Regions from separate parts of the Homo sapiens genome. Here region 2 is linked to region 1. Evidence: fine-mapped expression QTL. Tissue or cell type: fibroblasts. Region 1 holds a variant in brackets; the other region holds the start of a gene. All regions are shown on one strand. Distances are between the middles of the regions.

Region 1 (2,918 bases):
GCAGCCACCTTCTGTGTTTATGGAGTATGCTCAGAGTGTAAGTATGAAGGTTTCAGGGCTGCTCAGGAAGCAAGCTCCAACACTGAGGCCATATCTTGACAGTCAGCGTGGGCACTGCGACTTCTCATTGATATGCCTGATTCCACCTGCCGGGACTCCTGCACTCTCAGCTCTTATTACTTGCCCATGGGATTAAACTCTGGATGCAGATGGTCAACAAATAAAGCATTTACTAAGTCTGAGTGGCATTTCCCTCCAATGAGTCCGAATGAAGGATTCCTACTCAGCTTTTACTCTTTGTACTAACTCTTGGCAGTCCATAGCCCCATTACTTCAAGACCCTAAGAATAACAGAATTTTTAAGTCAGATATGCTGAGATTTCAACAATTTTGCTCCGTTCAGTAGCAATCTGGGTGCCAGGTAATGGGCTGGGGACTGGGATACAGCAGATACGAATAAGCCATGGTCTCAGCCCCTGTAAAGTTCACAGCCAGGGGAGTGGGGGAGGAAGGAGACAGAAGCATCCTGGTATGGGCCCTTCCTTGGTGTTCCCAGAGAACCCTTTCCCAGCTCCTGTCTTGGCACTTGCCGCTCTGTGGGTTAATTTCTGTGTATTTTTCTGTCTCTCTGGAGAAAAAAACTTTGGAGCCAGACACTATCACTTACTAGTTGTGTGACTGTGGGAAAGTCATTTCCCCTGTTTGTTTCCTCTCTCTGTTTCCTCTCTTTGATCACACTCTGTTTCTTCATCTGCATAATAGGTTGTTGTGAGAATTAAGTGGGATAATACATGTAAAGCCTTAGCACTGTGTATGGAAAATAATAGAATTCCAGAAATGTGAACTATTTTTATTAACAACGGCAGGGATAGTTGCCCAGGTCAACATTGATCCCGAGTGCCAGTCATGATGCCTGGCACTTAGTAGGGCCTCAGGAATCATTTGTTGATGGGATGGAGATATGAATGTTGCAGAGACACCCTAACAGACAAAGTGTATGCTGTGCGCTCTGGAAGCCCAGGGGAGGGGCAGGGAACTTTGACTGTGAGCGTAGCAGGGATTTATGGTGATAATCATTTATTTATTTATTTATTTTATTGTGGGAAGTTTTTTTTTATTATTATACTTTAAGTTCTAGGGTACCTGTGCACAACGTGCAGGTTTGTTACATTATGTATACATGTGCCATGTGGGTTTACTGTACCCATTAACTCGTCATTTACATTAGGTATTTCTCCTAATGCTATCCCTCCCCCAGCCCTCCATCCCCCAACAGGCCCTGGTGTGTGATGTTCCCCTTCCTGTGTCCAAGTGTTCTCATTGTTCAATTCCCACCTATGAGTGAGAACAGGCCGTGTTTGATTTTCTGTC[C/T]TTGTGATAGTTTGCTCAGAATGATGGTTTCCAGCAAGGACTTCATGACTAAAACACCAAAAGCAATGGTAACAAAAGCCGAAATAGACAAATGGGATCTATTTATTTTATTTTTAATTTTACTTTAAGTTCTGGGATACATGTGCAGAACGTGCATGTTTGTTACATAGGTATACATGCATGGTGTTTTGCTGCACCTATGAACCCGTCATCTAGGTTTTAAGCCCTGAGAGCTGGGATATCAGGAAGCCCGGTGTGTGATATTCCCCTCCCTGTGTCTGTGTGTTCTCATTGTTCAACTCCCACTTATGAGTGAGAACATGCTGTGTTTGGTTTTCTGTTCCTGTGTTAATTTGCTGAGAATGATGATTTCCAGCTTCATCCATGTCTCTGCAAAGTACATGAACTCATTATTTTTTATGGCTGCAGAGTATTCCATGGTGTATATGTGCCACATTTTCTTCATCCAGTCTATCATTAATGGGCATTTGGGTTAGTTCCAAGTCTTGGCTATTGTTAATAGTGCTGCAATAAATATATGTGTGCATGTATCTTTATAGTAGAATGATTTATAATCCTTTGGGTACCTACACAGTAATGGGATTGCTGGGTCAATTTGTATTTCTGGTTCTAGATCCTTGAGGAATCGCCACACTGTCTTCCATAATGGTTGAACTAATTTACACTCCCATATGGTGGTAATCATTTATAAGCAGGGCCTTGAAACATGTGTCAACCTTTAATTGGAACAAAAGGAGGTGGCAAAGGACCATCTATACCAAGAGGCAGCATAGAATAGAGGCTAGCCCAGACTGGAGCCAGGCTGCCTGGGTGTGAATCTTGCCTCTGGATCTTGGGCAAGCTTCTTTATTTCTCTGTGGCTTAGATGATAATAGTACCTCCTCAAGGGCTTGTCCTGAGAAATAGATGAGTGCTTCTTTGTAAAGCATTTAAAAACAGTGTCTATACATAAAATAAACAGCCCAGAAGTGTGAAAGTGTGGAAGGCAAGTAATATGGTAAATGGGAGATGCAGCTAGAGAGGTACTTTTGGAAGCAGTTCATCAAAGTCTTTGAATATCACTCAGTGTATTTGGAATTAGCCAATAAGGAACACAAAATCCATTCCCCTGTGGCTGGAGCTCAATAGTGGTTTCCCACCTTAAACAGGGCCTGCACTCTCAGGTTTGCCACAATCCCTAATGTTTCCTAGCCCAGCACTCCACAGATTTAGTGGTTCTAAATCAGTAAGTCTGGGGATCTGCATTTCTAACAAATTCCCAGGTGATGCTGATGCTGCTGGTCCAGAGACCACACTTTGAGAACCACTGCCTTATTGTACCTTGGACAATAAGATGGAGAATGAGTTGCCATTTATCATCACACATGTACTGTGGTTTCTTTCATATCTGCTACATTTTGTGCATTTAATGTTACTTTTCTGGCCCTGGTGGAACTTGGGTTTGCAATTCCTGGCATTATCAGTATGGAATGGTTGGGTATAAGATCACAAGAGACCGAGGGGCTAGAGAGAAAGAGATTTGGGGG
Region 2 (2,918 bases), 22 kb before region 1:
AAAAAAACAAGGTTAGAATAGGGAATAGATTTCACTCATCTGAACAAAACAAAACAACTTAATGTTTGTTATCAGGGAGTACAAATACCATCCATATTGATATAATTCTATTTTTCTCTTCTATTTTCCTTGGTAGAAAGTGACAATAACTTCTTTGGTTTAAAGAGAACTTTCATTCTCACAGTGAGCCTGAGGTCGGTCATTTTCTGCACTTTTCAAGGGAGTTGAGGCTCTGGGCAGTTTAGGGGCTTGTCTAGTGCCCTCAGCCTGTGGTGGCTGGAGGCATAACTCCAAGCTCAGTGCTACTTCCATCATGCTTTCTACTTGGTTCTTGGTCAGATAGGTCCTACTTTTGTGCTTGGGATTTCACTGCATTGCTGATGCTCACATTCATCCTCACCTGACAAAGGCCATTAACTACATCACTGATCTCTGCCTTGACCACTTGTTCAATAGTTTTAGCCACTGGGCTAGCAGTTGGGAGGCACTAAGATATGTGACCCACCTGAGGCCCAGGAATGTGTTATCACTCCCACAGATGGGGTCCTCTAGTTACCCCTGGGCAAGGAGCAGGAGCACTAATCTCCACTCCCCTTCATAGGAAAGAACAACCAATCTGTCCAATTACAGAGAACTTTGGAAAGATGCCAAGGCACTCTGAGCCCAGAATTAATGAGGTCCAGAGAAGAAATTCAGCTCCAAAAGGAAGAGGTTTGTGGAGACCTACAAGCTGTTTCTGGGGTCCTTGGACACATAGAAAACCAGAAGCCATCAATGAGTGGGGCAGCTTTAACTCCCTTCATGTAGGACCTGCTATGTTAGAATCTAAAGTCTGCTCAGGAGCAGGCCTACCTGCTCACACTAGAGCATCCAGGGGGAACTGTGAATACCTGCTCATGGCCAAGACAGGTGACTCTCAGCAGAGGATGGCTCCAAAGAAGATTGCTAAGAGCTCATTTCAGGGGCGGTGGAGAATAGGCCACAGGTGAGTGCTAACACCTTGGGAAATGTGGGGACTGCCACATCAGTGGAGGACAACAAAGCTGGCTTCCTGAGACTGGGACGAGGCTTATACCCCATAAGGGGGACCTTGGGGAAAAAGGAGCCTTCCTGCAGCCACTGTGACTGACACTGGGGAATCACTTCTCATTCTAGATCACTGGGCCTTTGGACTGCAGGGCTTTGTTCATTGCTTATTTGTGGTGATGGGCTCTCTTTCCTTTTAATCAAACTTTGTGCTTGCAAAGGGGAGTTTGTACCACCTTACAGGGTCTCTGTCCATAATTTTGATTCAAGCTAAACTGATCAAGTGCAGGATATGTTGGCTCCAAGGTTATGCCAGGATACAGTTTTCTCCAGGTGAAATAATCCCTTTATAACCCCCATAATAGATCCACAAACAGGCAGGATTAGTGTGTGGGTCACCTTAAAAATCTGGTAAACCCCTCTTGTTCCCAAGTGGCTGTGTTTGGGAGAACTTAGTAAAGGGAGGAGCTTCCTGGGAACTTTTTGTGTTTAGTCTCAATCTGCCAATGATTTACTTACCCCTGTGTTGTTGAGTTGGAAGATTGGGTGGTGATTTATCAGAAAGTGTAGCAGGAAGAACTTGTCATTTCTAAGACCTCAAATACTGGTTAACTGCATTTGCAGCTAGAAGTTAGGCTCTGATTCACTGTTTTGTATTTTCTAAAAGGGTTATATGTAATTTGAAAGATAGACCTGCCAAGACGTGAGATCTGTGTTCTCCTTGGTTAGAGCTAACATTTTTGGTGAGGAAAGCACTGCAGGTAACGGTTCAGAGCCTGGACTTTGGTGGCAGGTGGATGCAAGTTACAGTCACAGCTCTGCTACTTGCTAATCGTGTGATCTTGGCAATTTATTTAACTCTTTAGCCTTCAGTTTGCTTCCTTTGTTAATTTTTTTTCTTAGTTCTATTAGTTTTTCAGTTATGTTTTCTGAACCTAGAGATACTTTTGCCTCTTTTAATATTCGTAGTAGAAATTCATTTCTCTTGTTTTATTGCATTGGTTACAATTATCAGATTGTAACCAATGATGTCAGTGACAATGACAATGGACATTCATATCATATTCCTGATCTTAATGGGATGTTTCAAATGTTTCATATTAAGTATGATAATTGCTATATGTTCTGGTAGACATTGTTTAAAATCAGCTTAAGAAAGTTTCCTTGTACTTTAAAAAAATTGTGAATGGATCTTAAAGTTAGTCACATTCTTGGCATCTCTTGAGCCAAAATGATCATATGGCTTTTCTTCTTTAGACTGTTAAGATAATGCATTTTATCAATAGTTTTCCCTATTAACTAATTATTTTTAATGTCAAATCATTTTAAAATCTAAGATAAATCCTGATTGGTTATGATGCATTTTTCTTTCTCACATATTTCTTGTCTTTTTCTTTTTCTTTTTTTTTAAATTTTTGTGATGATTTTCACTATGCTGCCCAAGCTAGTCTTGAACTCTTGGACTCAGGGGATCCTCCTGCCTCAGCCTCCCTAGTAGTTGGGACTACAGGCATATGCCACCATGCCTGGCTGCATTTTTTTTTTAATATTGCTGGACTTGATTTCATCATATTTTATTTAGGATATTTAAAATTTAAGTTTTTAAATGATATTCATGTATCATTTTCTTGTGTGCTATCTTTGTCAGGTTTTGCAGCTGTGATTTTTAATTAATTGTGTTGATTTAAAGGAGCAGGCTGGCACAGAGAAGAGGACATGCGGAAGGAGCTCCAGCTCTCCCTGTCAGTCACCTTGCTGCTTGTCTGTGGCTTCCTCTACCAGTTCACCCTGAAGTCCAGCTGCCTCTTCTGTTTGCCTTCTTTCAAGTCCCACCAGGGGCTGGAAGCCCTCCTGAGCCACAGACGTGGCATTGTGTTTCTAGAGACCTCAGA

Evidence for each region.
Region 2: A4GNT starts here. The variant in region 1 is fine-mapped to the expression of A4GNT in fibroblasts (GTEx, PIP 0.93).

The regions. Positions count from the first base shown.
Region 1 is chr3:138,108,653-138,111,570 of GRCh38, reverse strand. The region is part of intron 1 of DZIP1L (DAZ interacting zinc finger protein 1 like); the gene reads left to right. Among named protein-coding and RNA genes, the nearest start is that of DZIP1L, 5.5 kb to the left of the region's middle. The variant C/T (reference allele first, on the strand shown) is at 1,372.
Region 2 is chr3:138,131,081-138,133,998 of GRCh38, reverse strand. It overlaps A4GNT (alpha-1,4-N-acetylglucosaminyltransferase), which reads left to right and starts at 1,609. Exons shown (of 3, transcript NM_016161.3): 1 at 1,609-1,787; 2 at 2,717-2,918. The coding sequence starts at 2,743.